Linked DNA regions of Homo sapiens. The protein of the gene in region 5 purifies or fractionates together with the protein of the main gene of each other region. This does not show direct contact. Each region holds a gene or a part of one and is shown on either strand. Other genes may lie near its edges.

The links.
Region 1: the proteins of C1orf210 (region 5) and SNX30 purify together in Homo sapiens (affinity purification with mass spectrometry; one large-scale study listed by BioGRID and IntAct). This does not show direct contact.
Region 2: the proteins of C1orf210 (region 5) and FAM234A purify together in Homo sapiens (affinity purification with mass spectrometry; one large-scale study listed by BioGRID and IntAct). This does not show direct contact.
Region 3: the proteins of C1orf210 (region 5) and RIC1 purify together in Homo sapiens (affinity purification with mass spectrometry; one large-scale study listed by BioGRID and IntAct). This does not show direct contact.
Region 4: the proteins of C1orf210 (region 5) and TTYH3 purify together in Homo sapiens (affinity purification with mass spectrometry; one large-scale study listed by BioGRID and IntAct). This does not show direct contact.
Region 6: the proteins of C1orf210 (region 5) and ZDHHC3 purify together in Homo sapiens (affinity purification with mass spectrometry; one large-scale study listed by BioGRID and IntAct). This does not show direct contact.
Region 7: the proteins of C1orf210 (region 5) and SLC27A4 purify together in Homo sapiens (affinity purification with mass spectrometry; one large-scale study listed by BioGRID and IntAct). This does not show direct contact.

What each region holds. Positions count from the first base shown.
Region 1 is NC_000009.12:112,749,363-112,753,559, forward strand, and holds the start of SNX30 (sorting nexin-30), read left to right. Parts: upstream 1-1,397; 5' UTR 1,398-1,639; coding exon 1,640-1,795; intron 1,796-4,197. UniProt on the Homo sapiens protein: Involved in the regulation of endocytosis and in several stages of intracellular trafficking. Together with SNX4, involved in autophagosome assembly.
Region 2 is NC_000016.10:237,821-241,320, reverse strand, and holds part of FAM234A (protein FAM234A), read right to left. Parts: intron 1,112-3,500; exon of another isoform or gene 1,045-1,111; intron 1-1,044.
Region 3 is NC_000009.12:5,765,107-5,768,606, forward strand, and holds part of RIC1 (guanine nucleotide exchange factor subunit RIC1), read left to right. Parts: intron 1-307; coding exon 308-466; intron 467-555; coding exon 556-692; intron 693-3,500. UniProt on the Homo sapiens protein: The RIC1-RGP1 complex acts as a guanine nucleotide exchange factor (GEF), which activates RAB6A by exchanging bound GDP for free GTP, and may thereby be required for efficient fusion of endosome-derived vesicles with the Golgi compartment.
Region 4 is NC_000007.14:2,645,486-2,648,985, reverse strand, and holds part of TTYH3 (protein tweety homolog 3), read right to left. Parts: intron 2,134-3,500; coding exon 1,964-2,133; intron 1,845-1,963; coding exon 1,733-1,844; intron 1,569-1,732; coding exon 1,348-1,568; intron 1,028-1,347; coding exon 932-1,027; intron 1-931. UniProt on the Homo sapiens protein: Calcium-independent, swelling-dependent volume-regulated anion channel (VRAC-swell) which plays a pivotal role in the process of regulatory volume decrease (RVD) in the brain through the efflux of anions like chloride and organic osmolytes like glutamate.
Region 5 is NC_000001.11:43,282,782-43,286,749, forward strand, and holds the start of C1orf210 (type III endosome membrane protein TEMP), read right to left. Parts: upstream 2,801-3,968; 5' UTR 2,663-2,800; intron 588-2,662; 5' UTR 490-587; coding exon 471-489; intron 327-470; coding exon 4-326; 3' UTR 1-3. UniProt on the Homo sapiens protein: May be involved in membrane trafficking between endosomes and plasma membrane.
Region 6 is NC_000003.12:44,966,175-44,969,674, reverse strand, and holds part of ZDHHC3 (palmitoyltransferase ZDHHC3), read left to right. Parts: intron 1-3,500. UniProt on the Homo sapiens protein: Golgi-localized palmitoyltransferase that catalyzes the addition of palmitate onto various protein substrates.
Region 7 is NC_000009.12:128,350,527-128,354,026, reverse strand, and holds part of SLC27A4 (long-chain fatty acid transport protein 4), read right to left. Parts: coding exon 3,452-3,500; intron 1,390-3,451; coding exon 1,280-1,389; intron 1,003-1,279; coding exon 793-1,002; intron 613-792; coding exon 486-612; intron 1-485. UniProt on the Homo sapiens protein: Mediates the levels of long-chain fatty acids (LCFA) in the cell by facilitating their transport across cell membranes. Appears to be the principal fatty acid transporter in small intestinal enterocytes.

The DNA.
Region 1 (4,197 bases), on a different chromosome or scaffold from region 5:
TAGTTATATTGTGCTATTCATTTTCATGCTAATTCAGAAGAACAGATAATAGGGTCTGTAGTAGTTGTAAGCAGCCCTTGAATGTGAAAGTGTTAACAATTTTAATCCAACTCCAAGAGGACCAGAACTTGGCATTCCTTAGATGCAGCATTTAAAATTGTTCCCAGTGCCCTTTGAATGCTACTTTTCCCAGCCAAGGCAGGCTTATGTGGAGGAGATAAAGATGATAGCTTGAGGACTAAGGGTCCAACCCTATATAAATTACATTGGGGGAAATAGGGGAAGGTCTTTGAAGCTCAGAGTCTCTGACTGATATTTTGGGTAGATTTCAACCCTCTGCATTCTCTTCTATTTGTTTCTAGAGAAAACTGTGGTAGAGGCCTTAGTGAATCCCAGAGTCAACATCTGTCATCACCTTTTAGCAGGTAAGGCTAGGCAAACCTTTGAGTTTGGAATGGGTAGGGAAAATGTGGTCCCTCACGATGAGCCTCCCTACCCATTACTTTGCTAGAGGGACTGAAAACCCTTTAAAGACTTGGCCTTGGAAACAGAAGATCTAGGGACAGGTAAGGTGGAAAAAGGAGGTGAACCTACACCCCAAAGGGCTGGAAGTAACACCTTGACTATTTGCACCACGCCAGCAAATAAAGCTGAGAATCAGCTCAGCCCAAGGCCTGGAAAGGAAGCACAAATGCATGAAGAATAACTTGAACCTCATGGTTCTTTCAAAAGTCTCTTCGGCCAAAGTGTGAGTTGAAGAGTCGCATATCATTTGAGACTCTCTACTCATGCTCGCTGTTCTGAGGTTTGACTTTACACAAATCCAGCTCAGCTGCAGAAGCAAGCCACAATGGGGACCTCAGAGTGAGCCTGAAGACTCCCCACACCGCCTCTTTGAAGTCCCTTCCAGGTTCCCCACCCGATGTCCTCTAGCTCATTTGAGCCTTGTCGCCCTTTATGCTATTCTTCCGATATGGGTCGTAATTCCGTCTATCTAGGGTTCTTCCTGCGCGTGCCTTAGAGGCCAGAAGACCCTGACTCACGTGCGTGTCCTCAAAGCCCCCAGCCCCAAGCGTGGCTGCTGGTGGGCGCATCAGTAAACGCGGGTGGAACGGAACAGGCTCCTCCAACCTCTTTTCCACCTCTGATTTCCGTTAGACATTTGCTCCGCACGGCGGCCTCCGCGAGGCAACGTTGGACACTGGGAGGACAGCCGCAGAGGCCCAGGGCGCACTTCCTGCCGGGCGGGGGCGGGGCCGCGCCTCCTCCCTCCCTCCCTCCGTCCTTCCTTCCCCACGTGCCCCTTCCCCGCCCTCCCCGCCCCCTCCCGGGCGGCCGCGGCGCCTCGGGGGCGGGGCCGGAGCGGGTGGGCGGTGTGGCTGTGTGGGCTGGGCGCCGCGGCCGTGCTGCCAGCGGACCCGCGGCGGGCTCGGGCGCGGAGCGGGGGCGCGCGGCGCGGAGCGGAGCGTCTGAGCGCCGGCAGAGACCAGCCGGCGGGTGGCGGCGGCCCCCAGCACGGCCGGTGCAAGGCCTCGGGTTAAGCGGCGGCCGAGCGGGGCTCGGCCCGGGGTGCTCGGGGAGCTCGCCGCGGCGGGCAGCAGGAGGAAGCGGCGGCGGCGCGTCCCGAGCGGTGCGCGCCATGGCGGGCGGGCCCCCCAAGGCCCTGCCGTCCACGGGGCCCCACTCCCTGCGCGACATGCCGCACCCGCTGGCCGGCTCCAGCAGCGAGGAGGCCGTGGGTGGTGACAGCACGCCCAGCCCGGACCTGCTGATGGCCCGCAGCTTCGGTGACAAGGTGGGGCGCCTGGGGCCGGGGAGTGGGAGGCTTATTTCGCTCCCCGTGGGGGGGATGATGGATCCGGAGCCTTCGTGGGCCTGGGGCCGCGCCCACCCTGCCGCCCCTTCCCGGGGGACGGGCGTGTCCTGGCCCCGGAGCCCTCGGCGAAGCGTCTCCTCTGCCGCCTCCGCGGGGTCGCAGCCGCAGAGGGACAGGCTTCGCTGCCTGTGACTGGTCGCAAGCACCGGTGACAGCTGGTGGGGAGGGGTCCAGCCTGCGTGTTGGAGCGGGAGGCGTGTGTTCAGGGCAGGGCGCCTGTGTCCTCGGATGGGGTTCCGAGTTCCTCCAGGTGCATCCCTGCAGGCTGAGCTGCTGCATAACTTGTAGCTCCTCCAGTTTCCGAGACTGCACAGAAAGCAGGAGTTCCTGGCTTTCCGTGCTGGGACCGGGCAGCCCTGGGCTTACAGCGAGAGTCTTCTTCCCCCTAGTCAGTCATGTGGGGAGTGATCTTTGTTTAGGTTTGCTGTTTGTCCTGAGGAGTCACCTGACTCAGACCCCAGCCGGCGGCGGGAGGAGAGCCTCGTTGTGGTTTTCTGTCTGGGGCTCCATTCACCTCCGACGGCCTACCACTCTGTTTAGGTTTGGCAGAGGCTGGTTTTGTGGTTGATGGAAAGAAAGCTCGCCCTTTGACCTTCTTTGTACGGAGGGAGGCTCCAGATTTTCTTAGAGCAGCACAACCCTCCTGCTGCTTGGAGAGACAGCAGAGTCCAGGCAGGGGTAAGGGACGACCTCCTCCCTACCCCCATGGCCATTTCAGCTGTGAAGGAGACTTGAGCAGTGATTGTATCCCCGCTCCTGCCGTCACTTAGTCACTAACTGCAGAAATTAGAATTGTTCTCAGGTCTTGTGATCAAGATTTTCTCTCCCTAGTAAAATACTAAATGAATTCCCCCTTGTCCCAATATTAATGGGAGCAGGGGACCTAACTTTCTTCTCCCGTTAGAGGGGACACCATGTGGTACAGTGAAAAAGGAGTATGAGAAAATATAACCTGCCCTCCTTGCAGTCAGAAGGTCACTGAGCACTTAAAATCACTAGAGAGTGCGACTTGATGTACCTTCTGCAGAGGGTTTGTGAAAGCAGGGAGTGAAGTTCCAAAGCATTAGGAACAGGAAAATTAAAAAAGCTAATGGAGGCCAGGTGCAGTGGCTCACACCTGTAATACCAGCACTTTGGGAGGCTGAAGTGGGATGATTGCTCTGAACCAAAAGTTTGAGACCAGCCTGGGCAACATATCGAGACCCCGTTTCCACATACGCACACAGCATGGTGGCATGCACCTGTAATCCAGGCTACTCAGGAGGCTGAGGCGGGAGGATTGCTTGAGCCTGGGAGTTCAAGGCTGCAGTGAGCTATGATTGCACCGCTGTACTCCAGCCTGGGCAAGAGAGTGAGACCCTGTCTCCAAAAAATGTTGAATAACTGAATAAATTTGCTTTCTTATCGACAAAAATTGGTCTTAAAATAGTGTAGGAACTGGGGGTTAAACCTCATTTCCTTCTCAGTTCTGTGTGGGACACTGAATTAATTATCTATTGCTGTGTAGCAAATTACCCCAAAACTTATCACCTGGAAATAGTGTCTGTGGGACAATCTGAGTGGTTCTGAATTAGGCCTTTCTTGAGGTTGCAGTCAAGTTGTTGGCTTGGGCTGCAGTCATCTGAAGGCTGGATTAGGGGAGGATCCACTTCTAAGCTCACTCACATGGCTGTTGGCAGGTCTTAGTTACTCTCCATAGGGCTGTTTGATGTGGCAACTGGTTTTTCCCCCCAGAGCAAGTGATCCAAGAGAGCTCAAGACTCTAGCCAGTCTTGTATAACTTATCTTGGAAATGACATGCCTCTGCTGTATTCTGTTGGTCACACAGATTGACACTGGTACAATGTGGGGAGAGGGTGTGAATATCAGGGTGTGTATACCAAGAGGTGGGGATCATTGGGCCATCTTGGAGACTGGCTACTACAGATAGCCATTTAAAATATTTACCTAACGATTCACTCATGGATGATACCTGACTCAGAAGTATGAGCATTTTACTAATAAGCACTTGGAAGACAAATTCCCCGTACCACCAAGATCTGGTTAGTGGTGAAGAAGTCAGTCTCAAGTCTAATTACCGATGGCTTCCTTTAAAGGGTCTGTTCTGTGTAGGAGGGAGAGTCTTGAAGGCATTATTAATTATTGAATATATATGTATTTTTTTGAGCAGAGACTTACTCTGTCACCCAGGCTGGAGCGCAGTGGCCTGATCCTGACTCACTGCAACCTCCACCTCCCTGGTCAAAGTGATTCTCGTGTCTCAGCTCCCGTATAGCTGTGATTACAGGCGTGTGCTACCTTGACCAGGTAATTTGTGTATT
Region 2 (3,500 bases), on a different chromosome or scaffold from region 5:
TGTGAACCACCGTGCCCAGCCTGAAGCAGACAGCTTTTTTTTTTTCTTTCTTTTTGTGTAGACCTCCTCTGCGGTCAAGATAAGTGTTTTAAGGCTAGGCACAGTAGCATACATTTGTAATCCCAGCAACTTCGGGAGGCTACAGCAGGAGGCAGGAAGATCACTCGAGCGCAGGAGTTCGAGACCAGCCTGGGCAACATGACAAAACCCTACCTCCACAAAAAAATACAAAAACTAGCCGGGTATGGTGGTATGTGCCTCTAGTCCCAGCTGTGCGAGAGACTGAGGTTCCCTTGAGCCTGGGAGGTGAGCGGAGATCACACCACTGCATTCCAGTCTAGGCAACAGGGCAAGACCCTGTCTCAAAAAAAAGAGAAGAAAACAGTGTTTTAAATGGATAAAATATTTAGTTAATATTTAGAGGAAAACTATGATTATAGATTAATGTTACTATCTAGTTTCACCAGTTAGAAACAGAAACTGAAAAGATTTTGTCAATGGATTAAAAATAATAAGCCCAGCTGGGTGTGGTAGCTCACAACTGTAATCTCAGCACTTTAGGAGGCCTAGGCGGCTGGATCACTTGAGGTCAGGAGTGCGAGACCAACCTGGCCAACATTGTGAAACCCCATCTCTACTAAAAGTACAAAAATTAGCCGGCGTGGTGGCACGCGCCTGTAGTCCCAGCTACTAGGGAGGCTGAGGCAGGAGTATCGCTTTAACCAAGGAGGCAGAGGTTGCAGTGAGCTGAGATCGCACCATTGTACTCCAGCCTTGGCAACAAGAGCAAGACTCTGTCTCAAAAAAAAAAAAAAAAATACACCCAGATGCAGCGGCTCAAGCCTTAAATAAGTTTGGGGTGACCCCCACTGACCCTGGTTAACCACACTCCACCCCAGAGAACTCAGTATTTTTCTTTCAAAGCACTCATCATACTTCTCTTACCTGGCAGAAAGAAAGCTATTTAAGGCCAGGAAGATGTCTGCTGTGTCCCCTGAGCCAAATGGATGAAAGAGAACTTAAAAGACAAGTAAGATAACTCACAATCAAGATCTGAATTTTCCGACAGACTTCATCATCCATAATCACTAACCAATCTTGTAGCGAGTGTGCCCAAATGCTTGTCCCCAAATCCAGCTGCTATACACACAAATGACTTAAGAAATGTATTTACACAATGTGGCTGTGTCACCACCAAGAACACGCTGGGCATTTGACAGCAATTCAACATGAGCTTCAGAGACACCCACAACAGCCAATGAGGCAGATGTTTCAGCTGAGCAAAGCAGATGTCAGACAAGGACAGCTACTGTGTCCAGTTGTTTACAGCAAGCAGCTATTTCTCTCTCCACCAAGAATAATCTCAAGACAAAGAACAGGCCCATAACCATTTTTCCAGAACCACTTTAAAGATCATGGTTCCATGACAAAGGCAAAAGTATCACAGCACATGCAGTCAGCACTCAAAAGCCCAAACACAAGTTCCTTTCCTTTGCAGAACTGAAAAACTTTTACAGTACTTGAGAAGGGCTCACAATGCCTCCTAAAAATAAGTTGAGGGCGAACAGCTGATAGGCAACTATTACACAGAATAAGTTTTGTAGTCTGTCCAGAAAATACCATGGAGTAAGCCTTTCTCCTGAATTCCAAGGCAGATTTCCTGCAACTCCCCCACAAATTAGTGTTAATTTTTTTTTTTTTTTTTTGAGACGGGGCCTAGCTGTGTCACCCAGGCTGGAGTGCAGTGGCGCAATCTCCACTCATTGCAAGCTCCGCCTCCTGGGTTCATGCCATTCTCCTGCCTCAGCCTCCCGAGTAGCTGGGACTACAGGTGCCCGCCACCACGTCCGACTAGTTTTTTTTGTATTTTTAGTAGAGACGGAGTTTCACCACGTTAGCCAGGATGGACTCGATCTCCTGACCTCGTGATCCACCCACCTCAGCCTCCCAAAGTGCTGGGATTACAGGCGTGAGCCACCGCATCCGGCACAATTTTTATTTATTTTTATTTTTATTTTCTTGAGTCAGAGTCTTGCTCTGTCGCCCAGGCTGGAATGTAGTGGTGCAATCTCAGCTCACTGCAACCTCTGCCTCCTGGGTTCAAGCGATTCTCCTGCCTCATCCTCCCGAGTAGCTGGGACTACAGGTGCCCGCCACTATGCCCGGCTAATTTTTTGTATTTTTTAGTAGAGACGGGGTTTCACTGTGTTAGCCAGGATGGTATTTTTTTTTTATTTTTGAGACGTAGGCTCGCTCTGTCGCCCAGGCTGGAGTGTAGCGGAGCGATCTCAGCTCACCGCAACCTCCGCCTCCTGGGTTCAAACAACTCTCCTGCCTCAGCCTCCTGAGTAGCTGGGACTACAGGCACGTGCCATGACACCCGGCTAATTTTTTTTTTTTTGTAGAGATGGGGTTTCACCATGTTAGCCAGGATAGTCTCGATCTCCTGACCTCGTGATCCACCCACCTCAGCCTCCCAAAGTGTTGGGATTACAGGCTTGAGCCACCACGCCCAGCCAGGGATTTTTTTTTTCTTTTTTTTTTTTTTTTTTTTTGAGACGGAGTCTCACTCTGTCGCCCAGGCTGGAGTGCAGTGGCACGATCTCTGCTCACTACAACCTCCGCCTCCCGGGTTCACGCCATTCTCCTGCCTCAGCCTCCGGAGTGGCTGGGACTACAGGCACCCGTCACCACGCCTGGCTAATTTTTTGTATTTTTAGTAGAGACGGGATTTCACTGTGTTAGCCAGGATGGTCTCGATCTCCTGACCTCATGATCTGCCCCCCTTGGCCTCCCAAAGGGCTGGGATTACAGGCGTGAGCCACCGTGCCTGGCCAGAACAGTAATTTATTAATGCATTCATTAATAAATTAGGCCTGGCCCTAGCTAACTAATCAGATTCCCAGAGATTACGGCCAGCACCCCAGCTGAAATCATAGGACCAGGCACTCTTGTCCCACAGGAGTGGTAAGCTGCATAGTGGTTTAAAAATGTTCGGACAGGGGCGGGGGCGGTGGTTCATGCTTCTAATTCCAGCACTTTGGGAAGCCAAGATGGGCAGATCACTTGACATCAGGAGTTCAAGACCAGCCTGGCCAACATGGCGAAACCTCGTCTCTACCAAAAACACAAAAATTAGCCCGGCATGGTGATGCACACCTGTAATCTCAGCTACTCAGGAGGCTGAGGCAGGAGAATCGCTTGAACCTGGGAGGCGGGGGTTGCAGTGGGCCAAGATGGAGCCACTGCACTCCAGCCTGGGCAACAGAGCGAGAATCCATCTCAAAATAAATAAATAAATAAAAATAAATAACATAGGCCAGGCACGGTGGCTCAAGTCTGTAACCCTAGCACTTTGGGAGGCCGAGGCGGGAGGATCACCTGAGGCCAGGAGTTTGAGACGAGCCCAGCCAACATGGTGAAACCCCGTCTTTACTAAAAATAAAAAAAATAGCTGGGCGTGGTAGTACGTGCTTGTAGTCCCAGCTCCTCCAGAGGCT
Region 3 (3,500 bases), on a different chromosome or scaffold from region 5:
TTTCCTCACTTGTAAAATACAAATGATATGCCTATCTGCAGAGTCACTGGGAGAAATAAATGAAATGACTTAAAGTATATGTATGCTATCTGGCATGTAGTAGGAGTTTAATAAATTATAGTTTACATACACCAGAAGAGTACTTGCCTCGCTTTTCCTTGTATGGTACTTTTTAATCTTATTATTAAACTAACCCCTGTGGTGGTGTGGCTACATTCTTTGAGTTTAGAAAACGAGATAAAGAATTGCTCATATCTTCCCAAATTGTGTAGTATAAAAAGAATGCTGTCCTGGTTGTTTTTTGTAGAATATGGAAGTCCCTGCAGTAAGTAGGCAACATGCTACCCTTCTATTCAACACAGCACTAGAACAAGGCAAGTGGGACCTTTGTCGACACATGATTCGATTTCTTAAAGCCATTGGCTCTGGAGAATCTGAGACACCTCCATCCACACCCACAGCTCAGGTTAGTTGCAAAAGTTACACATCTTCTCTAGGCCATACACCCACGTAGCATCTTTCTCTAATGGTACTGCATATGGTGTGTAATCCTAGGAACCCAGTTCAAGTGGTGGATTTGAGTTCTTCAGGAATCGAAGCATCAGTTTATCCCAGTCAGCTGAAAATGTTCCTGCCAGTAAATTCAGTTTACAGAAAACACTAAGTATGCCATCTGGTCCCTCTGGAAAAAGGTAAAATAATAAAGAGCCATTACTGCTTTTTGGGCATTCATGACACATTGCATTTCAAGACATTTACAAAATTAGGTCTTAATGGAAACAACTATTTAATCCAATTGCAGTTTCTTTTTCCATTCCCAAAAAGCAGAGGCCACACAGAAGGCTTCCCTTTTTCCTTCCTCCCAAGTTCACTTCAGCACCCTCTGAATAGTTTCTGCCCCTTTTTCTGGAATAGATCTTCATGTACCTGTTCTGAATGTAACAAACTTGTTTAAGACAGAGTCTCACTCTGTCACCCAGGCTGGAATGCAGTGGCACCATCTCAGCTCACTGCAACCTCCGCCTTACAGGTTCAAGCGATTATCCTGCCTCAGCCACCCAAGTAGCTGGGATTACAGGCATATGCCACCACACTCGGCTAATTTTCATATTTTTAGTAGAGACGGGGTTTCAACATGTTGCCCAGGCTAGTCTCGAACTCCTGGCCTCAAGGATCCACCTGCCTCTGCTTCCCAAAGGGCCGGGATTACAAGCGTGAGCCACCCTACCTGGCCAAATGCTACAAACTTTTTTTTCCCATAAGTTACTGGGGTCCAGGTGGTATTTGGTTACATTAATAAGTTATTTAGTGGTGATTTGTGAGATTTTGGTGCACCCATCACCCAAGCAGTATACACTGCACCATATTTGTTGTCTTTTATCCCTCACCCCCTCCCAGCCTTTCCCCCAAGTCCCCAAAGTCCATTGTATCATTCTTATGCCTTTGCGTCCTCATGGTTTAGCTCCCACATATCAGTGAGAACATACTACATTTGGTTTTCCATTCCTGAGTTACTTCACTTAGAATAATACTCTCCAATCTCATCAGGTCACTGCAAATGCTGTTAATTCATTCCTTTTTATGGCTGAGTAGTATTCCATCATATATACGTATATACAAGTTTCTTTATCCACTCGTTGACTGATGGGCATTTGGGTTGGTTCCACGATTTTGCAGTTGTGAACTGTGCTGCTATAAACGTGTGTGCAAGTATCTTTTTTGAATGACTTCTTTTCCTCTGGGTAGAACCCCAGTAGTGAGATTGCTGGATCAAATGGTAGTTCTACTTTTGGTTATTGAGGGAATCTCCACCCTGTTTTCCATAGCAGCTGTACTAGTTTACATTCCCACCGGCAGTGTAGAAGTGTTCCCTGATGGCCACATCCATGCCAACATCTACTGTTTTTTGATTATGGTCATTCTTGCAGGAGTAAGGTGGCATTGCGTTGTGGTTTTGATTTGAAAATGCAACAAACTTTTAAATTACCTCTGATGATAGAGGACCAAAAGGAAGATAGATAAATCTGTAGGTAATCCAAAAGCCTTCTTAAAGTCGTAATTTTACCTTTCCTTCTAATTATACTTTTTGATATAAATTTAGTGCTAATGCATTTGACACTCTTGTGACCTATTGATTAGAGAAGTTATTACACAGTCGGGGAGCCAAATGAATTGTATGCTGGAGACTGAAACTGCTATCACCCATAGATGGGATATTGTCTTCTGAGAGATGACTATGAATTCACACTAACATTATAAAATCATGAGAATTTCCTCTGGTTTGTGAGGCCTGTGTATTCCTTCCTATGTTCTTCTGTTGTTGTCTCATTTTTTTCCTTACCTAATCCTTTGTTTTATATTGTTCATATTCTCTTTTTTTTTTTTTCCCCAGGACAACATGAACATATGTTTATATTCTTACTACCGTGCTTGGGCACATAGTGAGAGCTTATTGAACGTTTGTTATTGTCATGTTTTACTGGGTTTTTTTGTTTTTTGAGATGGAGTTTCGCTCTTGTTGCCCAGGCTGGAGTGCAATGGCTTGATCTCGGCTCATCGCAATCTCCGCCTCCCAGGTTCAAGTGATTCTTCTGCCTCAGCCTCCCAAGTAGCTGGGATTACAGGCATGCACCACCACGCCTGGCTCATTTTGTATTTTTAGTAGAGACGGGGTTTCTCCGTATTGGTCAGGCTAGTCTCAAACTCCCGACCTCAGGTGATCCGCCTGCCTCTGCCTCCCAAAGTGCTGGGATTACAGGCATGAGCCACCATGCCCAGCCTGTTTTACTGTTTTTTAACAAGTGCTTACTACATGCCAGGCCTTATTCTAAGCATTTACATACATAGGTCCTATTTTAAACAACTCTATGAGGGTTATCCACATTGTATAGGTGAAGAAACAGAGGCCTAGGAAAATAAACTTAGTTATGTTCACACAACAAATGAGTGGCAGAGCCAAGATCCGAATCCAGGCAGTACTGCACCAGAGACTAGGCTCTTTACCCCACCACTAAACTGCCTCTCACTTAAAGCACCACATTATCCAGTTACCAAACCAGTTCCCCCACATTAGCTCATGTAAGTCAGGAATGAGAGACTATACTTAGGCAAGTTGTAATTTTTAAAAATTGGTTTCAGGACTGGCAAGGTGGCTAACACCTGTAATTCCAGCACTTTGGGAGGCCAAGGTGGGAGGATTGCTTGAGGCCAGGAGTTCAAGATGAGTCTGGGCAACACAGCAAGATCCCATCCTTGCAAAAATAAAAATACATTGGCTAGGCATGGTGGCAAGTACCTGTAGTCCCAGCTACTTGGGAGGCTGAGGTGGGGAAGATAGCTTGAGCCCAGGAGTTTGAGGTTGCAGTGAGCTATGATCACACCACTGCACTCCAGACTGGGTGACATTGTGAAACCTTGTCATTTAAGAAAAAAAAAGTTGGTATTCTTTTCATATGTCTGCATGACTCACACTGAGAAATTTAATTTCACTTTGCCTCTCT
Region 4 (3,500 bases), on a different chromosome or scaffold from region 5:
GTGCAGGCCCCACACCCCACTGCGGGCCCCACACCCCACTGCGGGCCCCACACCCCACTGCGGGCCCCACACCCCACTGCAGGCCTGCACACCCCACTGAGGACCCCACAACCCACTGCACACTGTCATCCTTCCTGTCTGTCCAGGCGTCCCTTACTCCCTTGGGCCCCTGCTCAATCCCTCCTCGCTCAGGTCTCCTTGGGCACAGCGTGAAGCTGCACCCCCCCCCACCACCCTACTGCAGGCCTTCACACCACCCCGGCTTTTCCTCTCCAGGGTGCTATCACCTCTGGCCCATGCCACGTTTCCCTCATTCTGCTCCTCTGTGGCCTGTGAGTGCCACGTGGGGGGAGGCTGTGTGTTCTCCCATCTCTCCCAGGCCTGGCCCAGGGAGGCACCAGCCATGGCTGTGCAGCTGCGTGGTGAAGGGCAGTGACAACACCTTACCTCCCACAGAGGAGCTGCCGCTCTCTCTGCCTTCCAAACGAGGAGACCAAGGCCCAGCAACAATAAGCCACCTGCCCAAGGTCACCCTCCTAGTGAGCCGGAGCTGGGGCTGGAACCCAGGCTGCCCCAGGGCCAAGGATGGAAGGGGTGGAGGAAGGAGCCCCAGCCTGGTCTCTGGGTGGCCCCAGGCACTCGGAGACCTGGGCAGGTTGCTTCAGGTCCTGGGCTACAAGTGCCCCACGTGCAGACTCTTGCAGGAAATCAAGGGCTGGGGGCAAGTGTGCTGGGATGCTGGCCACAGGGGCACAGGCCACAGGCACAGAAGGGGCATCTCAGAGCAGGCCCAGTGCAGGGGGGTCCCGCTCAGCCCCCACCGCAGAGCTTGTGGCTAGGATCTGCAGATGAGGTGGGGGAAGGGGTAACATGGTGCCTTGCCCTGCCCCTCCGCTTTGGGCCCACGGGGGGCCGACACCCCCAGACTCACCCCACCAGGATGCCCTTGGAGCTGCGGATGAGGCCAACCAGCACCAGGAGGCAGATGATGACGTCCAGCAGCAGCAGGCCCAGGTAGCCCAGCCACCTGCAGGCAAACCTGGGAGTGCGCCAGGGCACAGGGACCCGGGGCCTGGGAGTGGGGCGCCAGGGGCCCTTGAGGGGGAGCTGAGGCCAGCAGCCTGGCACCCCAGAGGGCATTCAGAGCGTCTGGGTCATGGGGACTGGTGTCAGTTCTTGAGAAAGGCTCCCATTAGGGGAACTCCAGCCACTGCCTGTGACCTCCAGTGGCCCTGGGCCACACCCTGCCCATCAGGCCTCATGTACTAGGTGCTGAGAGCAAAAATTGGCCCAAGGAGGGTGATGCTTTCCCACGTGGGGCGGGCAGGGAAGAGGGCCTGGCCGCACCTGTACCAGTCGTAGAGATCCACCTGCTCCGCCAGCACCTCCAGCGACACCGCCGTGTTCCTCCAAAAGGGGATGGCGGCCGTGTAGCCCAGCAGCGTCTCCAGCAGGCCCTGCAGCCTCTGTACGGCTCGCAGGGGCTCGGGCCGCCCGGCCAGCTGCCGCTCCAGGGTCTGCAGGCTGGGCTCCGCCGTGTGGTTCAGCCCCACCGCCGTGTCCCACACCTGCGCCGGACCCGCGGGCGTGAGGCTGGGAGCGCGCCCGCCTCGCCCCAGAGTCTGGGCCCCTCCTGCACAGCCCCAGTCCCGGCTGCCCCGCCCGTCCTCGCGCAGACGTGGGGCTCCGGAGCAGCAAGAGTGCTCCTGGCCCCAACTCCGCGGCCACTCACGCGGTCCTGGACCCCGGCCACCGTGCGGTTGGCGTGGCGGAGCGAGTAGGTGGCCCTATGGATGCCATCACTGGTCTCCCCGTTGCCGTAGAATCCCACTGCGATGCCGGCGCTGGAGAGGGCGGGCCCGTGAGATGTAGCCCCGCCCACCCACACACACCCCACTCCAGCCCCGCCCCCTCGGGCCGCCCCCTCTGGCCCCGCCCTCCGTCCCCGCCCCACCGCGCTCACCTGCACACCAGCGTGGCGATGATGACACACCAGGCCGTGCAGCAGCAGTCGGCGTCCAGGTGCTCCTCGCTCTTGCGCCGCCGGCAGCACAGCCAGAAGGAGTAGAAGAGCAGGAAGAGGAGGTCCAGGGCGAGGCAGGCCAGGGCGGCGGCCCCCAGGAGCAGCAGGGCCTGAGGGCAGGCAGGAAGCGGCGCTGGAGGGGTGGACCCCCAGCTCAGAGTCCCACGCCCCGCCCCAGCAGGGGACCTGGCGCAGACTCCCATTTAATCCTGCCCCCAGCCCTGGGAGGTGGGCCCCATCCCCGACTTGTAGGTGAGGCATGGAGTCTCCCACCACCTCAGTGATGCACCTGGGGTCACCCAGGCCTGGACCCCACACCTGGGACCCCGGTCTCGCCATCCTCAAGGCTGCACAGCATGAAGACTCCATAGCCACTAGGAGGGGCCGGGTGAACCGACTCCAGGCTTCTGTGGCTCCAGCAAGGGCACATGTCCCCTCCCCACCGGGTCCCCAGAGTCCAGGGCAGGTGCTCAGGACGTCTGCCCCACCAGGCCCCAAGGAGAGGCGCTGGATGGAGGTAGCCAGAGAATGTGGGTGACAAACGAGGACGCTGCTGGTGAGCCACCATCTTTGCAGCCACAGCCCCACTAGGGAGGTCCCTCCACCTCTCCGAGCCTGGTTTATCTTCTGTAGAAAGAAGTGCTGCTGAGCAGGGCAGGGTGGCTCACGCCTGTAATCCCAGCACTTTGGGAGGCCGAGGCGGGCGGATCACCTGAGGTCAGGAGTTTGAGACCAGCCTGGCCAACGTGGCGAAACCCCATCTCTACTAAAAGTACAAAAATTAGCCAGGCCTGGTGGCGGGTGCCTGTAATCCCAGCTACTCAGGAGGCTGAGGCAGGAGGATCACTTGAACCCGGGTGGCGGAGGTTGCAGTGAGCCGAGATTGCACCACTGCACTCCAGCCTGGGCGACAAGAGCGAGACACTGTCTAAAAAAAAAAAAAGTGCTGCTGCTCCCCCGAAGAAGCGAAGCCCTGGGGAGGGGGCTGCCGGCATCAGCTACTGTCCTCACCCCCAGCCCGAGACAGCCCCAGGACCCCAGAGCCCGTCCCCGTCTCAGGCCCAGAACTCTCCTACCTGAGTCCTGGCAGGATCCCCCACCCCAGCTGTAGTCCTGAGGTTTTCAGGTCTGGTAGGGAAATTGGGAGCCTGTGGGGGACTGAACCCCCTCTTGCTGACCATGAAAGTGTTTCTGAGGGGTGAACATGGAAGAGGCCCCATCAGGAGTCTGATCCTGTCTGGGGTCTGTGCACCGAGAAGCTGCACTCAGGGGTGGGCACCGTCCATGGCGTGCCCCCACGCTGGATGAGATGGTGGGGCTGGCCCCACACTGCTACAGGCTGCATACAGGCGCCCCATCGGACACACAGCCCTGTCTGGCTCCAAGCACGGCCTTCCAGTGTGGCTCTCCCCAGGTCTCTGAACACAAAAGACAGACCACAGAACAGACACCAGAGCTCCCCTGTCCCGAGGCCAGG
Region 5 (3,968 bases):
AGCTCAGAGGGAGAAGTGGTCCCTGCTACCCTCTGTCCCCAGCTCGCCAGTCCCAGGCTGAATGTAATTGTCCTCGATGAAGCCATCATCATCCTCATCTTCAGCCACCTGTGGGCGGCCTCCCCTTCCTGTCTCAGGCAGTGGGCGGTGCCGGTAGCTGGCATGGTATCGGCGGCAGAGGTGGCATTTGGCAGCAAGTGCAATGAGGAGCGAGAGGACCACAGCCCCCAGCACAAATCCTACCAGCACAGGCCATGCCCGAGCCCCAGTGCCTGGGCCAGGGGCCACAGCAGACGCTGTGGGGAGCTCCGAAGGCCCAACAAGTGCTGCAGAGAAAGGGACAGCATTATAGGTGGGCCCCAGAGGGGGCTCCCTGGAGAAACCAAGAGCAGTGCAGGTAGGGTCCTTCCCCCAACCCCAGCATCTAAGGGGAAGCCCCCCACCCCCATCATCCTCCCACTGTCACTCACTTTTGTTTGTCTCATTCATGGAGGGGCCTGATGACACCAGTGAGTCTCAGCCTCAACCAGAAAGAGCCCTGGCTCTGAGGAGGCCCCCAGATGCCAGGCAGCCCCAGGGCACAAGTCCTAGAAAATAACATAGGTATGGGTGTCAGGGATGGTCACAGGGTGCACTTTCCAGGTCACACTCACAGCCATGGTAGCCCTGCACAAACTCTGGGGACTGGACAACTGACCACACCAGCTCTCCACAGAAGAGAAACAAGCTGAGCCTACAGAAACTGGCTATTTGTAAGGGACCATCACAGGGTTTGGCTCTGGAAGCTGCTAAAAAAAAAATAAATTGTAGAACTTACTGAGCATTCCTTATAATTCAAGCACCAGGCATCATGCTCACAAAACCCAGTAAGGTAAGTATAAACATTATCCCCACTTTATAGATGAGGGCTCTGAGGCTGAAAAAGGTGAACTGACTCAACTAAAGTCTTCAGATTCGAACCCAGAGCCCAGTCTGTTGCACTGCTTGGTAAGCTGAGGATGGGAGACAGGGGCAGAGGTGGGTCCTGGCTCCCGAAGGTCAGAAAACAGCAATTGCTTGGAGCTACCCAGCCAAAGCGGAGACCACATATGGGGAGGGTGATGCAAGTTGCTACTGAGGACAGGGGCCCTGGACACAGCCAGAGCAGCCCTGGCCCTTCTAAGTTGAAAGCCGCTGCTGCCCACCTCTACCCTCAGCCCTTCAAGCAAACCCCTGTCCTTTCACCTCTACTCAAAGGAGGCCCACACTCTGCCCCCACAGGGAGGCTCAAGCCAGGGAGTATCCAAATGAGGATCACCTGAATCAGGAAATTATCACCCAGGGCTGGGGACACCTAGAGGAGGAACACTTCAATTAGGGGAGTAGCTGGAGGAAGATCATCCAGGCATGGAAACACCTGTAGGAGGAGCACCTGGATCAAAGGAGTGTCTGGAGGAGGCGCACCTGAATCTGGGGAGTATCTAGAGGAGGAGCATGAAAGTTAGAAGTACCTGGCAGACGAACAGCTAGGGCAGGAGCATATCTGCCAGTGGAGCACCTGAACCAGGGGAGTCCTTGGGGGCAGAGTAGCCGGGCTAGGGAAGTACTTAGGAGAGAAGTTGAGGGGAGTACCCCAGTATATTCTTTGATACAAGTGCCTTCAAACCCCCCCCAACCTCCTCACATCCAACCTGGTATCAATCCCCATCATGTCTTCCACTAAACATCTCTGGAATGACAATACCCTCTTCTCCACCCCACTGCCACAGCTGAGTCCAAGCCACCTTCCTCTTGTACTCTAGCCATAATCTCCTAACTGGGCTCCCCACCTCTGGTCTCTTCCACAGAGTGATGGGCCTACAACCCAAATCTGACCCCATCACTAGCCTGGTTAAAATCCCTTCAAAAGCTCCCCATGCCCCACAGTGCCTTGCAATCCAGCACACGGCCCTCAAGCCAAACTCTTCTTCCTCTTCTCCACAGTTCCCTCCCCAGCACTTCAGACAGACACACATGCCCTCCTCCCACTCACCCACCCTCCTGCTCCCTGGCCACGCCCTCCTCAGTTTTTGGGGCGCCAGTCTGTCAAGGCCAAATCAGACCATACCTGCCTGTGAGGTTGTCCCTGGACCTACCCTGGATGACCTGTCACCATCCTGCCCAGTCAACCACCAGTCAGAACCAGTCATTGCTAGGCGGGCAGCTCCCCGTGGGCAACGGCTGGCTGAAGGATCTGTACCCTGGCGCTGCAGGGAGCTGGGCGTTCAGCCCCTCAGTGTGGTGCTTGTGAAATTAACGAGGGGAGCGTGAGAGTGAATATACAGGTGGGAGCGGGAGAGACGTCCTGGGAAGGAGAGGTCAGCTGCTCATTCATTCCTCAGCCTGCTGTGGGCCTCATCCTAGTACTAGGTCCGCAAAACATGAGAATGTGTTACACTGGAATGAACTGAATTCAATTTGACGTTTCTAAGGTTGTATTCCTATTCCTTTCCTCCCTGCCCTGTGAATTCTTCCCAAGAAGACACACACACACTAACCTTCCAAGGGTGCATATACACTCCCCAACAGGCCTCTGAACTCACAGCCCACACTGATCTGCCCATCCCCCATACGCACAGCCCCTCCCCCCAGGTCACACTTTCCTCCACCAACAAACACCCCTCTGACATGCACAGACACCTACCCCAACTCTGATGTGTAGCTTCCTTCCTGCTGCCAGAAGCCCCTTGGGTACTGTGCAGAGCCTGGGTACCCCCTCCCCGGCCCCCCCGGGCCTTCTCTTCTGTTCCCACCTTCAAGAACTGTGCACAATCCGCGGAGTAAGCTTCCGGCTGGGGCCGGCAGAACCTGGACAGGTGGGCGGGTCAAGGCAGAGCTTGACTCACCTGCGGAGGCAGTGGGCGGGGCTGAAGCTGCAGGTCTGGCAGAGGGCGGGCTGCGGCAGCGCCTCCAGTGGGGAGGGATAATTCTACCTCTCCCCCAAGCTTTTGCCAAGAACTTTATGGGTGTAGACCTCACCCTCACCCCCCAATGCTTGCGGTTTGTACAGCTGGGATCCAGAGAAGCGTCCAGCGGGCCCTAGAGGGGCAGACACCTCAGCAGGCAGGTGCTCAGGTTGATAAACAACTGAACGTCCGGTGACTGGTACAAAGTCCAGAGTTGAAGAGGGAGCTTTGCAGGCCTGTAAGGGTGGTGGGCTGGAACCAGAGCGGGTGGGGAGGGCATTCTTTCCAGGCAAAGCCAGGAGGACCAAGAACACTCCCAAATTGCCTACAAATGTGTGTGTAACTGTGTAGGGGGTGAGGGGTGGATCTGGATGGGGGCTCAGCCTTCATCTGGATCTCAGGATCCCGTGACCCCACAAGCCAGGCTCTGAACCTCTCCCGGGTGCTCTCTGATTCCCTTTAGCTTTACTCCTCGTCTCTGGGCCTGGTGCCCCCTGTTCTTCAAGCTCCAGTTCAGGAATCACCTTCCCTGAGTCCTCCCTCTACCCTGCAAGTCCCCACTCTTCCATGCCCAGAGCACCCACTGTCGCAGCATTCCTCATTATCTTGTGATTATTCGCTCTCCTGGGGTGGGGCCAGGCTTTGACAGCCTGTGGCTCCCAGCACAGTACTGACCCAGGGCAGGCTCCCCGTAACTACCTAAGGGAGGAAGGACCGCACGCGCCAAGGCCTGGAGGCCCCGAATTCGCAAGGATAGGCCGGGCACAGTGGGAGCAAGGGCTGCAGAGAGGCCAAGTATGGTGGCTCACGCCTGTAATCCCAGCACTTTGGGAGGCCAAAGCGGGTTGATTGCTTGAGCCCATGAGCGGAGATCAGCCTGGGCAACATAGGGAGACCCCATCTCTACTAGAAACACAAAAATTAGCTGGGCGTGGTAATGCTCACCTGTAGTCCTAGCTACTGGGGAAGCTGAGGGGGGAGGACTGCCTGAGCCCAGAAGTTTTAGGCTACAGTGAGCCATGATTGCGCCATCACACTCCAGCC
Region 6 (3,500 bases), on a different chromosome or scaffold from region 5:
CACTGCATGCAGCCCACTCGATAATGCCACCTCTGCATAACCATGTGTGGACAAGATAGCCAAACCGTAAGTAACCCAAGGTCACTGATGGAAACATCAATACTCCTCCCCCTTTTATTTTCTAGTTACTAGACAAAATTTAATTATTGTAGTAAGTAGTGAAAAGCAAGCCCTGGGGCAAGAGCAGACTTTGGGAGTATATCCTGTCTCCACCACTTCCTGGAAGTATGGTTGTAGGCATGCTTCAGTTTTCTCGTTTCTAAAAGCAGGATGGGGAAGTGGGCATTTATATGTGCAAAATAGAGTAGATGTGAGAATCAAACAGGAAGAGGCATGTGTAGCAAGCAGCCCAGTGCCCTGATGGAGGCAGTGGTGACACCTTAAGTGAGGGTCAGGAAAGAATCAGGGCCCCACCCTACATTCAGCATATCCCACACTTTGGCAACAATCAAGCAGAACTGGAGCCTACCCTCACAGAGGCCAGAAGGCAGTTCATTGTCAAATGAGATCATGCACTGGATTACAAGGGGTTCACAAACTATGAGAGTATCACCGTCATCGGCAAGTGTTCATTGGGTAGCTGGAGCAGTCATTTATTGTTGCCTTTATGAAGATGCTCCTGCTGGCTTACAAACTTCCTGCAAGGAGAAGTTAATGCAGGGAGATGGCAGCGTAGCAATTAAACAGATTGTAGTAGTTACCATCCATTAGACCTAGAAAACAAGTTAGCCACCTCCCTGTGAAGATCCACTGACTCCTTGAGCTTCACTTCCTTACTCATCTGTAAAACAGAGTGGACCACAATTTGGAAGCAGGGCGGGTAGTTCTCACAGTCTCTTTACAAGCAGCTATGTTTTTGAGGGCCCAAGTCTGATTGAGGTAACCCAATGAGTGTCATGCTCCATTAATGAGACAGGTGCCAGAAGGGGCTCATAGAAGAAGGAATGCTCAATTTTTATTTATTCATTAGTTAGTTTGTTTGACAGGGTCACACTCTGTCACCCAAGCTGGAGTGCAGTGGTGCAATCTTATCTCACTGCAGCCTCAACCTTCTGGGCTCAGGCGATCCTCCTATCTCAGCTTCCCAAGTAGCTGGGACTATAAGCACACACTACCATGCTCGGCTAATTGTTTAAGATTTTTGTAGAGATGAGGTCTCGCTATATTGCCCAGGCTAGTCTCGAACTCCTGGGCTCAAGCCATCTGTCTGCGTGGGTCTCCCAAAGTGTCCTTACAGGCGGGAGCCACCATGCCCAGACTTGTTTTTAAAGAATAGGTATTATGGGTGCCCAGAAGCCAGTGAAAGGAAAGTCTGCTTAGAGTGCCTTTTTTGAGTGTTTTTGTTTGTTTGTTTTGTTTTTTTTTAAAGAGTCAGAGATTAGAGATCCTAGTCCATCCCCCTCACTTTAGAGAGGAAGATGCTAAAGCTAAGTTGAAGTAACTTCTCCTCAGGTCCCTCAAATGTGTGTAAGGGAGCAGGAAGTACAACTCCTATTTCCTGCTTGTGCATTTGTCTCATTCCAACTTTGGGTGGAAAAAAAAAATCCATGTGCTGTGCTAAAAAGTGCAGTCTGTGACGGCAAGCAGAGCCGTTTTGAATCCTGGCTCCACCACCACCTCACTCAATGCGACCTTGGGAATATTCCCCAACCCCTCTGAGCCTTACTTTTTCCATCTCTGCAATGGCGAATAAAAGCTGCCATGCTGGGTTGCTGTAAGAATTAAAACGAGCTGCTTTGCGTAGTCCTGAAGCATAATAGGCATTCAGTTAATGTTGATGCCCATCTCCATTGCTGTAGCCAGTACTGCATGTTTTGCCTAAAACATAAGTTTTCAACAAAATGTCAAAAGGACTTAAATTTTCACATTTGTAAAACAGGAAAATTTGACTAAAATCTACCACATGGTCTTTAATATTTCTCCCAGCTCTAAAATTCTGATTTTTTTTAACCAGTTACTCTTACAAGTGGCTTGTTTTAAACTTGTCTCAATTTTTCTGTTCATTGCAATGTATAAATGATACCCATGAAAAGGGAAAGTAGACCGTGTTACCCAAATGAGTGGTGTCTTCTACGGATTTCCAATGTTTGTAACATTTATTATGTCACACTGTACATGAGTGTGTCTTTTTTTTCCCCCAATTAAAAAAAATTTATAGAAACAAGGTCTCACTATGTTGGCCAGGCTGGTCTCTAACTCCTGGGCTCCAGTGATCCTCTTGCCTCAGCCTCCCAAAGGGTTGGGATTGCAGATGTGAACCACTACACCTGGTTCGGGTGCATATTTTTTTTTAGTAGATTAGTAAAGCCAGGAGCTGGTAAAATAGCCAATTGTAATAAAATAGTTATAGTAAGTAGAGGAACTGTTAGCCTCCATGAGCTATCCAAATCCCAGACTGTTTTCTGAAATGAAGGACATTGGTAGGAGTCTGAGTGTGTGCATGAATGGGTTTTGTAAGAAGGTGGTCAGTTATGAGGCAAGAAGGAAATTTCGGTTTACCGACCACTTCCTGGTTTCCTCAATGAACTGTAATATGTGTAAGGTTTGGCTTGGAGGTACAATATTTTACTTTTTTTTTTTCCATTTGTTTTTTGTTGAAGGCTGAGTATGACAGAGACAAAAGGCAGTCAGAGGGAGACAGCCCCTGCTATAGAGAGAGAAACAGTGTAGACTTGTTGGTAGCAAAGATCTTATAAAACAGGCCAGCTCACTCTGCCTGTCTGGACACTTTCCTTGGCTAGCAGGGTGTGCCGCAGAAGATAAGGCACCTTTCTTCTGTTAGGCTTCATACCACACCCTTACCTTTTTGAAAAAGTTTAGTGACTCATCCTATTTTTTAATGAAATATTTCAAACACAGTGATTCATGATTCCCTCTTTGTTTTTCTGAGACTCATCTAAAAAGTGGGCATAAAATTTACAATCCTTTTGGATCCTTACACAAATAAAGGTAATTGTAGTGCAGGTGAATTAATTTTCTACTTGACCAATTTTGTTTCTAAAGCTTCTAAGGCAAAGATCATCTATTTGATCTTTGAGGTTGCAGGGCTGGCTTGTGAATACTTTAAGACTATCACTCTAAAATGTGAGAAGTTCTAAAAGAAACAAACACCACATTTTTAAGACTGTACGATTTAAACCATAGAAGGTTAATGTTATATTGATTAGAGTGAATTTCAGCTGAGAGTTATAGACATATCAGAAAAGATGCTACCCTCTTTCAGTGGACATTTTAAGTGATTGTTTAAGGGTAGACTGAACTATTTAACTGTGGTAAGAATTAGTTTAGGTGGGAATTCAGTGTTTAGGACAAGTTCAAGAGGATACCAGACCAGCCCTCAACAGCAGTCTAGCATAATAATAGATTTATTAAAATGTCACATATTCACTCGAAACAAATTTTGGCTTAAGCCAAAAGCATCCTATTTTAGAGTTTCTACTATTTTGCTGATGTTCATGACATCTGCTAAGAGGCTGATGAAATTGAGTTTCGATTTTATA
Region 7 (3,500 bases), on a different chromosome or scaffold from region 5:
TCACGCCTGTAATCCCAGCACTTTGGGAGGCCGAGGCGGGCGGATCACGAGGTCAGGAGATCGAGACCATCCCGGCTAAAACGGTGAAACCCCGTCTCTACTAAAAATACAAAAAATTAGCCGGGCGTAGTGGCGGGCGCCTGTAGTCCCAGCTACTTGGGAGGCTGAGGCAGGAGAATGGCGTGAACCCGGGAGGCGGAGCTTGCAGTGAGCCGAGATCCCGCCACTGCACTCCAGCCTGGGCGACAGAGCGAGACTCCGTCTCAAATAAAAAAAAAAAAAAGAATGAATGAATGGACTGATGTACAGATAGAATGGCGAATGAATGAATGAATGGATGGATACACAAATAAATGAGTAACTTGTAACCCTAAGAGCAGAGATAACTGATGGCCACTGGTCAGAACAAGGCTCCCCATCCACACGCGCCTGGCCTCCTTCCTTCCCAGGCCAACCCCTCCCTCTCTGACCCCGAAGTGGCAGACCTGGCTGGCAGGGAATGCAGACGCCGTCGGGCCCCCGGATCAGCTCCATGGTGTCCTCGTTGACACGTACCAACCGGATGGGGTACACGAAGGACAGGATGCGGCTATTGAAACCACAGGCCCCCACCTGCGAAGGCCAAGACTTGGGCCTGGGCTCTCTCACCATGGGCCCAAAACTGGACAATGAGGGGGAAGTGGGACTCCAGCACCCACACTCTCACGCTCGAACTCTGCCCTCCCCTCTGCATCCAGTGCCTTCTGTGGGCCATCCCTGCAGCAGCCTCGCCCATCCCCAACCTGGCCGCACCTGGCTGTCGAAGTTGCCCAGGCTACAGTTGCACTCTGTGGCCCCGTAGAACTCAGCCACCTGGGGTATGTGGAAGCGGCTGGAAAAGTTGGTCCAGATGGACTGCCGGAGGCCATTGCCTAGTGCCATGCGAACCTGGTGCTGGTTTTCTGCCTCCCGCGGTGGCTGGTTCAGGAGGTAGCGGCACAGTTCACCAATGTACTGCACAATCTGGGGGTGAACTTGGTGTGATTCGAGGCTCCAGAGGCTGCCCTCACTACACTAGGATTCTCCTGATCCCTCAAGCCCCTACTCTCCCCAGGGGCTGGCCATGCCATCCTTTCCCTCTCCGGGTCTCAGCCTTCCCATCTGAACAATGGGAACTTTGCCACAAATGAGCCCTTTGGAATGACTGGCCACCTCAGCTATAAGACAGATGCCCCGGAGTGTAGTTGGGAAGAGGGTAACTAGGGGAAAGGGACAGCTCACCCTTCCCGCTCTCGCTCACCGTGCAGTTGTACTTGATACAATCGTCCCAGAACCGGGAGGCTGAGAACTTCTTCCGAATCACCACCGTCATGCCATGCAGCAGGCACTGGCCGATTCCCACGATGTTTCCTGGAGGCAGAGGGATGGCCCCTGAGGGTCAGCGAGATGAAGACCCTCCCCGGCCCCAAATCAGTGATACTGCCATCCAGCCAGGCAGGCTTGTGCTGCCCTGCAGGCTTCTGCACCTCACATCTGCCTGCCTTGGGTGACCTCCTCCAAGAAGCCTCCCCGGCTTCCATCACCAGGCTCTTCCCTGGTGCTGCCCTCTTGCTCCCTGCCTCTCTCCTACACTCACATATACACCCGACTCTAAGCACCTGGAGGGCAGGAGCTATATTTATTCAAGCTGTCTTCCCTTAAGCCCCTACAAACAAGCAGCAATGCCATGCATATCTGTGGAAACAAACTGAAATGAGACAGGCCCAGATGCCCCGTGGGACACTGCCACACACACTGTGAGGCTGGTGTGCTCATCCTTTTTTCAATTTAAAACAACTTTTTTTTTTTTTTTTGAGACGGAGTCTCGCTCTGTCGCCCAGCCTGGAGTACAGTGATGCCATCTCGGCTCACTGCAAGCTCCGCCTTCCGGGTTCATGCCATTCTCCTGCATCATCCTCCCGAGTAGCTGGGACTACAGGCGCCCGCCACCACGCCCGGCTAATTTTTTTTTTTTTTTGTATTTTTAGTAGAGATGGGGTTTCATCGTGTTAGCCAGGATGGTCTTGATCTCCTGACCTCGTGATCCGCCCGCCTCGGCCTCCCAAAGTGTTGGGATTACAGGCGTGAGCCACCACACCTGGCCTAAAACAAAATTTTTTTTAGAGACAGGTCTCACCATGTTGCCCAGGCTGGCCTTAAACTCCCAGGCTCAAGTGATTCTCCTGTCTCAGCCTTCCCAGTAGCTGAGACCATAGGCATGTGCACCACGCCTGGCTAATCCTGTTTATTTTTATTTTTAAATTAAATTAAATTAATTTATTTATTTATTTTGAGACAGAGTCTTGCCCTGTCACCCAGGCTGATGTGCAATGGCACGATCTAGGCTCACTGCAACCTTTGCCTCCTGGGTTCAAACCATTCTCCTGCCTCAGCCTCCTGGGTAGCTGGGATTACAGGCACCCGCCACCAAGCCCAGCTACTTTTTGTACTTTTAGTAGAGACAGGGTTTCACCATGTTAACCAGGCTGGTCTCGAACTCCTGACCTCGTGATCCACTCACCTCCCAAAGTGTTGGGATTACAGGCGTGAGCCACTGCGCCCAGCCTATTTTTATTTTTTTTGAGACAGTGTCTCGCTCTGTTGCCCAGGCTGGAGTGCAGTGGCGTGATCTCAGCTCACTGCAACCTTTGCCTCCCAGGTTCAAGCAATTCTCATGCCTCAGCCTCACAGGTAGCTGGGATTACAGGCACACGCCACCAGACCCAGCTAATTTTTTTTTTTTTTGAGACAGTGTCTCGCTCTGTTGCCCAGGCTGGAATGCAGTGGCGTGATCTCAGCTCACTGCAACCTTTGCCTCCCAGGTTCAAGCAATTCTCGTGCCTCAGCCTCACAGATAGCTGGGACTACAGGCACACGCCACCACACCCAGATAATTTCTTTCTTTTTTTTTTTTCCGAGACAGAGTCTTGTACTGTTGCCCAGGCTGGAGTGCAGTGGCACGATCTTGGCTCACTGCAAGCTCCACCTCCCGGGTTCACGCCATTCTCCTGCCTCACCCTCCCGAGTAGCTGGGCCTACAGGCATGAGCCACCACACCTGGCTAATTTTTTGTACTTTTAGTAGAGACGGGGTTTCACCGTGTTAGCCAGGATGGTCTCGAACTCCTGGCCTCAAGTGATCCGCCCACCTTGGCCTCTCAAAGTGCTGGGATTACAGGTGTGAGCCACCACACCCAGCCTAATTTTTGTATTTTTAGTAGAGATGGGGTTTTGCCATGTTGGCCAGGCTGGTCTCGAACTCCTGGCCTCAAGTGATCCGCCCACCTTGGCCTCCCAAAGTGCTGGGATTACAGGTGTGAGTCACTGCGCCTGGCCCAAAGCTGTGTGTTTCTACTGCAGCACACTGCCTGATGGGGGTGGGGTTCCTAGAGACCTGGCAGGTGCTGGAGGCTGTGTGACAGCCCTAGAGTTACCTGCTGAGTGGTAGAGGGGGAGGCAGTCATAGACGATGTCGTTGGGCCG